Homo sapiens: one gene and its partners. The protein of the gene in region 1 purifies or fractionates together with the protein of each later gene. This does not show direct contact. Each region holds a gene or a part of one and is shown on either strand. Other genes may lie near its edges. The genes, in order: LAMP1, RAB4A and TMEM192.

Evidence for each region.
Region 2: the proteins of LAMP1 (region 1) and RAB4A purify together in Homo sapiens (affinity purification with mass spectrometry; 2 studies listed by BioGRID and IntAct, with this or other methods). This does not show direct contact.
Region 3: the proteins of LAMP1 (region 1) and TMEM192 purify together in Homo sapiens (affinity purification with mass spectrometry; 3 studies listed by BioGRID and IntAct, with this or other methods). This does not show direct contact.

Annotation. Positions count from the first base shown.
Region 1 is NC_000013.11:113,321,097-113,324,184, forward strand, and holds the end of LAMP1 (lysosome-associated membrane glycoprotein 1 precursor), read left to right. Parts: intron 1-307; coding exon 308-374; intron 375-460; coding exon 461-631; intron 632-1,185; coding exon 1,186-1,325; 3' UTR 1,326-2,576; downstream 2,577-3,088. UniProt on the Homo sapiens protein: Lysosomal membrane glycoprotein which plays an important role in lysosome biogenesis, lysosomal pH regulation, autophagy and cholesterol homeostasis.
Region 2 is NC_000001.11:229,302,016-229,305,769, reverse strand, and holds part of RAB4A (ras-related protein Rab-4A), read right to left. Parts: intron 2,909-3,754; coding exon 2,793-2,908; 3' UTR 2,781-2,792; intron 1,965-2,780; 3' UTR 1-1,964. UniProt on the Homo sapiens protein: The small GTPases Rab are key regulators of intracellular membrane trafficking, from the formation of transport vesicles to their fusion with membranes.
Region 3 is NC_000004.12:165,071,143-165,074,896, reverse strand, and holds part of TMEM192 (transmembrane protein 192), read left to right. Parts: 3' UTR 1-3,754.

The DNA of each region.
Region 1 (3,088 bases):
CTTGAGCCCAGGAGTTAAGGTTGCGATGAGCCGTGATCACTCCACTGCACTCCAGCCTGGGTGACAGAGCAAGACTCTCAGAGAAGGGTCTGGAAGGAACTAACCAAAATTTTCATTCCCCAGAGATACACAACGCCTTTTATAGACAAGATCTTTTGCAGTTTTGTTCTAATACTAGAAATGTAGGAAGTCAGGTTTATTACCCAATGACCATTCACGTTTGATGATAAATGTGTGAATCTACTGGGGTTAAAGATCATCTTTCTATGAATCTGCTCCGTGATTAAAGATCATTTTTCTTTTTAAGAATGCAAGTTCTAGCCGGTTTTTCCTACAAGGAATCCAGTTGAATACAATTCTTCCTGACGCCAGAGGTGAGAACCCACAATCTCTGCGAGCCCCGCCCCCGCCCGCGCGCCCAGGGTATTCTGGAGCCACTAGACCTCTGTGTGTGTTGCAGACCCTGCCTTTAAAGCTGCCAACGGCTCCCTGCGAGCGCTGCAGGCCACAGTCGGCAATTCCTACAAGTGCAACGCGGAGGAGCACGTCCGTGTCACGAAGGCGTTTTCAGTCAATATATTCAAAGTGTGGGTCCAGGCTTTCAAGGTGGAAGGTGGCCAGTTTGGCTCTGGTGAGTGTCACCGAGGGCAGCTGTCGCGGGGTGTGGAGGACGTGCTTCAGACTCCGCCTGTGGACGTTTAGTCGCTTCCGTGTGGGCTGGGGCGACGCCCCTGTTCCTCTGCAAGGAGCTGTTTCTTCTTGCCGGTCTGAGATTCTAGAGGTAACTCCCCCTGCTTTAGAGAGGCCCAGCGTGTCTCTCAGCTGGGAGCCCCTGGTACCATTTGAGAGTAAGGGAATCATTTTAAGAAACAGTGGTGGCGCTTCTCCCATGAACGTTGAATACAACACTGTCATCTGATGTGCACAGAGGCCCTGGACGCAGCACAGCTGTCCGGCCACAGCCCCTGATTCCAGACGGGGGAGAGACGTGTGTGGTTTCCTCGCCGTGCAGAGAGCACCAGTCTCTGCAGCGGCTTCCCCAAGTGACAATTCCAGCTAGAGCTGGAACCTTCCGCCAGGGTTCCTCTTTGCCTTTTGGCTGATGTGGGGGAGTGGTGGGGAGAGAGGCCTGTTTGCAGGCCCCTGTGTGAGCAGAGCCCTGACACCATCCGTCTGTCTTGGCAGTGGAGGAGTGTCTGCTGGACGAGAACAGCATGCTGATCCCCATCGCTGTGGGTGGTGCCCTGGCGGGGCTGGTCCTCATCGTCCTCATCGCCTACCTCGTCGGCAGGAAGAGGAGTCACGCAGGCTACCAGACTATCTAGCCTGGTGCACGCAGGCACAGCAGCTGCAGGGGCCTCTGTTCCTTTCTCTGGGCTTAGGGTCCTGTCGAAGGGGAGGCACACTTTCTGGCAAACGTTTCTCAAATCTGCTTCATCCAATGTGAAGTTCATCTTGCAGCATTTACTATGCACAACAGAGTAACTATCGAAATGACGGTGTTAATTTTGCTAACTGGGTTAAATATTTTGCTAACTGGTTAAACATTAATATTTACCAAAGTAGGATTTTGAGGGTGGGGGTGCTCTCTCTGAGGGGGTGGGGGTGCCGCTGTCTCTGAGGGGTGGGGGTGCCGCTGTCTCTGAGGGGTGGGGGTGCCGCTCTCTCTGAGGGGGTGGGGGTGCCGCTTTCTCTGAGGGGGTGGGGGTGCCGCTCTCTCTGAGGGGGTGGGGGTGCTGCTCTCTCCGAGGGGTGGAATGCCGCTGTCTCTGAGGGGTGGGGGTGCCGCTCTAAATTGGCTCCATATCATTTGAGTTTAGGGTTCTGGTGTTTGGTTTCTTCATTCTTTACTGCACTCAGATTTAAGCCTTACAAAGGGAAAGCCTCTGGCCGTCACACGTAGGACGCATGAAGGTCACTCGTGGTGAGGCTGACATGCTCACACATTACAACAGTAGAGAGGGAACATCCTAAGACAGAGGAACTCCAGAGATGAGTGTCTGGAGCGCTTCAGTTCAGCTTTAAAGGCCAGGACGGGCCACACGTGGCTGGCGGCCTCGTTCCAGTGGCGGCACGTCCTTGGGCGTCTCTAATGTCTGCAGCTCAAGGGCTGGCACTTTTTTAAATATAAAAATGGGTGTTATTTTTATTTTTATTTGTAAAGTGATTTTTGGTCTTCTGTTGACATTCGGGGTGATCCTGTTCTGCGCTGTGTACAATGTGAGATCGGTGCGTTCTCCTGATGTTTTGCCGTGGCTTGGGGATTGTACACGGGACCAGCTCACGTAATGCATTGCCTGTAACAATGTAATAAAAAGCCTCTTTCTTTTTGGGGTGGGCCTTGTCCTTCTGTCAGCTAAAATGGGAGCTCATGAGAGAAGGACGTCAGGGAAACGGGGTTGAGGGTGGTCTCGGTGCAGAGAGAAGGGTGTCAGGGAAACGGGGGGTGAGGGTGGTCTTGGTGCCAGACGTAGGGAATGGTGTTGGGAGTGGCCCGAGTGCCTGGCACAGTTGTCTGGTTCATTCATGTAACATGATAATTTTTAAATCATTAAAAAAATTACCTTTCATACAGATACCATGGAATACTATGCAGCCATAAAGAGGTATGAGATCTTGTCCCCTGCAGGGACACGGATAGAGCTGGAAGCCATTATTCTCAGCAAACTAACACAGGAGCAGAAAACCAGACACCACTTGTTCTCACTTGTAAGTGGGAGCTTCTGATGAGAACACATGGACACAAGGAGGGGAACATCACACACTGGGGCCCGTTGGGTCGGGGGCAGGGAGAGCATCAGGAAGAATAGCTAAGGGATGCTGGCTTCATACCTAGGTGACAGGATGGTCTGTGCAGCACATCACCACGGCACACGTTTACCTGTGCAACAGACCTGTACACCCTCCACCTGTACCCAGAAGTTAAAAGTTGAAGGGAGAAAATGATCTTTCTAAAGAGAAATCACCTACTACGTGCAGAAGCCTCACATAAACTGCACGCTCTGTCACAGAAAGGAATGGAATATTGACACTGCCGCTGTAAGACCTCAGTGACCACTCACTATGTTAATTTCCAGTCAGCTGAGAA
Region 2 (3,754 bases), on another chromosome or scaffold:
ATTCCCAAATTGTGATGTTCTCATTTTCACTTAAATGCTGGACTGTAAAAGAATAAATTACAATCTCCAGTTTAAATGGTCTTTATAATCTTTTTCTAGGAAGACTGAATAATTACTTTCCTAGAAATCTAAATTAAGAGCTTCCTGAAAACTTAATGAGTTGCGGGAAATAGAAACATGACATTTATTACTAGCCTGAACAATACCCAATTATCTCTCCTCCTCATTCTCCCTAAAGGCAAAGCCTGATTAAGAACCACCATGGTTTGGTTCTCCAGCAACTTTTATTGGCCAAAGGATGCAGAAGGATATATGGTGTCTGTGGTTTAATTAACAGGATCGTTTATAAAACAACTTTACATTTATCTTATTTTTAAAATTCTTGCTTTTGAATAAGCTGATGTGTTAGAATAGACATGCTCCTATCCCATGCAAAAAGCTGTTCAAAAATGAGCAGCTTGCAAATCTATCATAAATGAGACATTGAATAAAATATTCTTACAGTGAGGTCTAAGAAGTAGTTCAGTCTGAGAATTTGCTTCAGATACTTTTTGAAATAAAATATTCAAGGCATAAAAAAAGCAAAACTCAAAATATCTAAAACAGATACATACTGATATTTTTATCCTAGTCATTTCCCAGAGTTTTTATGTGTCTCTGTGCTCTGCTGATTAAAATAAACAACAAAAGCAGTAGGCATCTTCTAACTAAAAGTTAATTTACTAGTCTTCAACTAAAAAGTCACAGTGGAAGAACATATATAAGGTGAAGAAAGCTTTTTAACCTTTCAGATTTAAATAATACTGCATTTCAACTTTAAAGAAAGGTTCCACCATATATTTTTTGCACTGACATTTTAAAATACAAGAACAAGTCTTTGTAATACAATATATACTTCAATATACCCAATATACCTTATATGAATTAAAAACATGTCAACTGGATAACTGTAGTAAGGCATTTAAGTATTCAGCAGAAGCCATAAAGAAATTTCTTAATGAGTGGTGTCCATTTAATATTAACTGGATTTAGTAGGTTTCCTTAAAATGAACAGGAAACAAAAGATGTGAAAAACAGGCAGTGATGCCATTATACTGAATTCCAGAAAAAGCACAGTACAATGTGTTTTCTAGCAGGGAGACCAGCAAACTGGAAGTGGATGAGCGGCCCCAGCTTACATGGTCTATTGTATTTGATCAACTGCTGAGAGAAGTATTAGTAGCCCAGTAGGTTTGGGTAAAGGTACCAGAATCCTTAGTGCTAGTCTCACAGCCAAAAACAGAGCAGGTACTCCAGATATACTTCCTGAACTGACCTGGATGAAGAGGCTTTAAAATCAACAGAGCTGGACAGTATAAAGTTCACGGAAAAACTCAATTTTTCATTTTATTTTGGTATATTAGTGAATGTCTACTGATCTAGTATTTCAAGTGTGGATCACGTAAACACCATGTAGAATGTAGTAAACGGAGTTAAATAAGAAAACACACTGGCTATCAATGCCAGAGTCTTTGAATATCAGGTCATAAATATAACCAATTGTGCAATATAACCAACATGATGAGAAAAGCACACCTCACAATTGACAATTTTAGTTCATATGATTAAAAAAAATAAAATCTGAAACTGCATTTAGTGCCACATTCTATCATATCATACATCAGATTCCATGCTGTGGAGCCGCACTGGGCTACAGGACATACAGTACATATAGCATGTTTTAAACCGAAAGTGAAAGGAAAAATATGAAACAGAAAATTTTTACATACACATCTAACGGTGTTGTCCATTTAATTCGATTTATATGATTTGCTGTGCCACTTTGACTGGCTTGCAGAACACCCCAAATTCTCTTTTCCCCATAAAGATCTACTTCCATACAGAGTAGAAAAAGATGGTGGTAAAAAAAACTTCAGATTCTTCAGGTTCCAACGATTGTGTCCCAAATGCCACTGTATGAACACCTAAAAAATATTAAGAACAATTTCAAAATCTGCATAACTATAAATGCAAAAGTAAATACAGCTTAAAGCCTAAAAGAGAATTCGTGAATATCTTGTCTTTTAACACTTGCCTGTGCCTACTACATGATGTCGACTATAAATAAAACGTCCACTGTGGTAAATGGGAAAAAAGAAGAAGCTTTAAAAAGTTAAAGGGAGACATTTGTCAATTTTATAAATAGGCCTCCTGTTTTAGCAAAAGGCACATTCATTTAGACCTCAATCAATCCAGGAAGGGCTCCTCACTGACATAAGGAATCAGGATATCTCACCCTTCCCATCAACCACCACCTGCCCTTCCTTTCTTTCTGAACAAGAGCATAAGAATTTCCTATAGAGTATAAATTCTTTCAGTTAGAACATCCAACTTTAACTTATGGGTTCTTCTCCTTCTCTTTTTTTTTTTTCTGAGACAGTTCTCACTTTATCGCCCAGGCTGGAGTGCAGTGGTATGATCTTGGCTTACTGCAACCTCCGCCTCCCAGGCTCAAGCAATTCTCCTAAGTTTCATGAGTAGCTGGGACTACAGGTGCACGCCACCACGCCTGGCTAATTTTTTGTATTTTGTAGAGATGATGTTTCACCATGATGCCTAGGCTGGTCTCGAACTCCTGAACTAAAGCAACTGGCCCACCTCAGCCTCCCAAAGTGCTGGAATTAGAGCCACTGCACCCGGCTGGGATCCCCTCTTTTTCATACTGCAGCTTCCCAAAGCTTTAACAGGCCTCTGCACTTGAGCTTGCCAGGAACTCAGGGCAGGGAGGTGTCCAAACCCACCTGTGTGCTCTCCTAACAACCACACTCCTGAGCGTTCGGGGCCTGTGCGCGCCGCGGTGACCTCAGCTGTCTCAAGGCAGCATCTCCGTACTGAATACCTGAGCCCATTCTTTCTGGGTCCAGCTCACCTAAGGACCAAGCAAGTCTTCTTTTAAAAAAGGCTTTTATGTTTCTTTGATTCCAAAAATAGATTAAAAAAAAAAAAAGCAAAGTACAGAACACTGTGTATATATCCCACCATTCTGAATAAAGGGAAAAAACTATATATATGTTTGCTTGCACCGGCACAAAACATCTCTAGCAGGATACATAAGGAACGGCTGATTCGGAGGAGTTCTAGATGGCTGAGGACAGGAGGGGGTGGTAACAGGGGGACTTTTCATTGCATACTCTTTTATACTTCTTGAATTTCAAATTATGTGAATACATTATTTATATAAAATAATTTAAAATTAAATTACAAAGATATAATTTTTCACTTATTAGATGGGCCAAAAGTCCAAGTATGATGATACTACATGCTGTGGACATGGCTTTAGTGAAATAAGCCCATCACTAGGAGAAAATGTGACAGCCTCTACACCAAGATCCCAAATGCTTATGTTCTCTGACCCAGCAATTCCACTTCTGGGCATTTGTCTGACACACAGACTCATGCACATGTAAAAAAAAAAAAAAAATATATATATATATATATATATATATATATATATATATATATATATATATATAATTATTTACTGTAACATTACTTATAATAGCAAAATACTGGCAACAACCCAAATGTCCAAAGTAGACTGGCTCATGAATTATGGTAACACATAGGTTGAGCGGTCCTTATCCAAATATAGGTTGAGCAGTCCTTATCCAAAATACTTGAAACCAGAAGTATTTTGGATTTTTTCAGATTTTGAAATATTTCCATTATACTTACCAGTTCAGCATCCCTAATCTGAAAATCTGAAATTTGAAGT
Region 3 (3,754 bases), on another chromosome or scaffold:
TAACAACTAGAATCTTCTGGTTGGGCGTGGTGGCTCCCGCCTGTAATCCCAGCACTTTGGGAGGCCAAGGCAGGCAGATCACTTGAGGTCAGGAGTTCGAGACCAGCCTGACCAACATGGAGAAACCCCATTTCTACTAAAAATACAAAATTAAGGCTGGGCGCAGTGGCTCACACCGGTAATTCCAGCACTTTGGGAGGCCGAGGCAGGCGGATCATGAGGTCAGGAGTTCGAGACCAGCCTGACCAACATGGAGAAACCCCGTCTCTACTAAAAATACAAAATAGCCAGGTGCAGTGAAGTGCACCTGTAATCCCAGCTACTCAGGAGGCTGAGGCAGGAGAATTGCTTGAACCCGGGAGGTGGAGGTTGCAGTGAGCCGAGATCGCACCACTGCACTCCAGCCTGGGTGACAGAGCGAGACTCTGTCTCAATAAATAAATAAATAAATAAATAAATCTTGAATACAAAACTCACATCTGGTAAACTCTTGAGTTCTTGAAGAATCAAACTTTGAATATGTGACAATCACAAATTTGAGATCTCAAAACATTCTCTAGGTTTCCTAAGGAAAATTGTTTCATTCGCAAACCAGGGAAGCCTATCTCTAATTCTTCTCCCTTCCTCTCTATCCAGTCTCACCTTTCACTCTACTACTCTACTGAAACTGTTCTTGGCAAGGTCACCAATAGCTTCCTTCCACATTGCTTAAATTGGAGATGAATGCATACGTCTCCTCTTTTAACTTATCAGCAACACTTGGCTCAGTTGATTGAGGGGGGGTCTGCCCCTCCACACCTGTGGGTATTTCTCGTCAGGTGGGACGAGAGACTGAGAAAAGAAATAAGACACAGAGACAAAGTATAAAGAAAGAACAGTGGGCCCAGGGGACCAGCACACCCAGCATGCGAGGACCTGCACCGGCGCCGGTCTCTTGAGTTCTGTTAGTATTTATTGATCATTATTTTTAATATCTTGACGAGGGGAGTGTAGCGGGGCAACAGGTGGGGAGAAGGTCAGCAGGGAAACGTGAGCAAAGGAATCTGTATCATGAATAAGTTCAAGGAAAGGTACTGTGTCCGGATGTGCATGTAGGCTAGATTTACGTTTCTCTTTACACAAACATTTCAGTGTAGCAAAGAGTAACAGAGCAGTATTGCTGCCAGCATATCTCGCCTCCAGCCACAGGGCAGTTTTCTCCTATCTCAGAATAGAACGAATGGGAATGGTCAGCTTTACACCGAGACATTCCATTCCCAGGGACGAGCAGGAGACAGAAGCCTTCCTCTTATCTCAACTGCAAAGAGGCCTCCCTCTTTCACTACTCCTCCTCAGCACAGACCCTTTACAGGTGTCGGGCTGGGGGATGGTAAGGCCTTTCCTTTCCCACGAGGCCGTATCTCAGGCTGTCTCAGTGGGAGGAAACCTTGGACAATACCCAGGCTTTCTTGGGCAGAGGTCCCTGCGGCTTTCCGCAGTGCATTGTGTCCCTGGTTAATCGAGAATGGAGAAAGGCGATGACTTTTACCAAGCATACCACCTGCAAACATATTGTTAACAAGGCACATCCTGCACAGCCCTAAATCCATTAAACTGATCCAATACAGCACATGTTTCTGTGAGCACAGGGTTGGGGCTAAAGTTATAGGTTAACAGCATCTCAAAGCAGAAACAATTTTTCTTAGTACAGATCAAAATGGAGTTTCTTATGTCTTCTTTTTCTACATAGACACAGTAACAATCTGATCTCTCTCTTTTCCCCACAGTTGATCACTTCCTCCTTGACTCTTTATTTCAGCTTGGCTTCCAGGACACTACATTCTCCTCATTTTCTTCTACTTCACTAGCTTCTTCTTTTGTCTGCTTTGCAAGTTGCTTTTTGTTGGTATTCTCCAGGGCTCAACCCCTGGGCCTCTTGGCTTCTCCATCAGCGTTCACTCTCTTGGTGGTCTCACACAATCTCATGACTTTGATAGAATTTATGAGCTGATAATTTCCAAATGTGAATCTTCAGCCAGGCCTTCCTCCCTGAACTCCAGACTTATGTGTCCAACTGCCCCTTCTAGATCACTACTTGGGTATATAAAAAAACACCTCAAACAGAACATGTCCCCAGCTGAGCTATCTGCCACAGTCTCTTCCACCCCTGTAATGGCAGCTCCTCTTTCTCTCAAACCCTATAGACAGTTAATCAGCAAATCCTGCTGGCTTTTCCTTTAAAACATACCCAGAGTCCAACCAATTCTTGGCACCCCCAATGCTACTTCCCCAGCCACTATAATCTTCACCTGGACTATTATAATAGTCTTTCGGTTTTTTGGTTTTGTTTTTTTTTTTTGGGGGAGGGAGTCTCGCTCTGTTGCCCAGGCTGGAGTGCAGTGGCGCGATCTGGGCTCACTGCAACCTCCGCCTCCCAGGTTCAAGTGATTCTCTTGCTTCAGCCTCCTGAGTAGCTGGGATTACCGGCACATACCACCACACCCAGCTAATTTTTTTATATTTTTAGTAGAAAGGGGGTTTCACCATGTTAGCCAGGCTGGTCTTGAACTCCGGACCTCAGGTCATCCACCCGCCTTGGCCTCCCAAAGTGCTGCAATTACAGGCATGAGTCACTGTGCCTGGCCCTATTATAATAGTGTTTTTCTTTTTCTTTTTCTTTCTTTCTTTTTTCTTGAGATGGAGTCTCACTCGTGTCGCACAGGCTGGAGTGCAGTGGCGCAGTCTCGGCTCACTACAACCTCCGCTGCCCAGGTTCAAGCAATTCTCCTTCCTCAGCCTCCTGAGTAGCTGGGATTATAGGTGTGCTTTTTTTATTTTTAGTAGAGACGAGGTTTCACCATGCTGACTAGGCTGGTCTGGAACTCCTGACCTCATGATCCTCCCTCCTTGGCCTCCCAAAGTACTGGGATTACAGGCATGAGCCACCACACCTGGCCTATAAGAGTCTTTTAAGTGATCTTTCTGCTTCTCACTACCTCTCCACCCTGACCCCCCAGCCCCATGCACACACACAAAAAGCAGCCAACAATATCCTTCTAAAACACTACTCTGATGGTTCCCTTTTTCATTCAGTAAAAGCCAAAGCCTGGACAGTGGCCTTCAGGGACCTAGAAAATCTCCACTTCCCACCCCACCCCACCTCCTCTCTCCTACTCTTCCTTTGTGTACCCTGCGTCGGTCACACTGTGGCTTTTGGATTGCTAAGCACATTCTTACCTGAGGACCTTTGCGGTTGCTGTTCCCTCTGCCTGGAAGGATCAACTCCCATATATCTTTTTCAAGTCTTTGTTCAAATGTCACTTGTGGCCAGGTGTGGTGGCTAACCCCTGTAATCCCAGCACTTTGGGAGGCTGAGGTGGGTGGATCACTTGAGGTCAGGAGTTGGGAGACCGGCCTGGCCAACACGATGAAACCCTGTCTCTACTGAAAATACAAAAATTAGCCAGGCGTGGTGGCACGTGTCTGTAATCCCAGCTATTCAGGAGGCTGAGGCAGGAGAATCACTTGAACCTGGGAGGTGGAGGTTGCAGTGAGCCAAGATCGCACAGCTGTACTCCAGCCTGGGTGACAAGAGTGAGAATCCGTCCCCCCCCCAAAAAAAAAAAATCCTCCCACTTCAGTCAGCCTCCTGAGTAGCTGGGATTATAGATGTGCACCACACCACCACACGTAACTTTTATTATAGTATATTGCTATAATTATTCTATTTTGTTATTAATGTTGTTACTCTCTGTGCCTAATTTATAAATTTAAC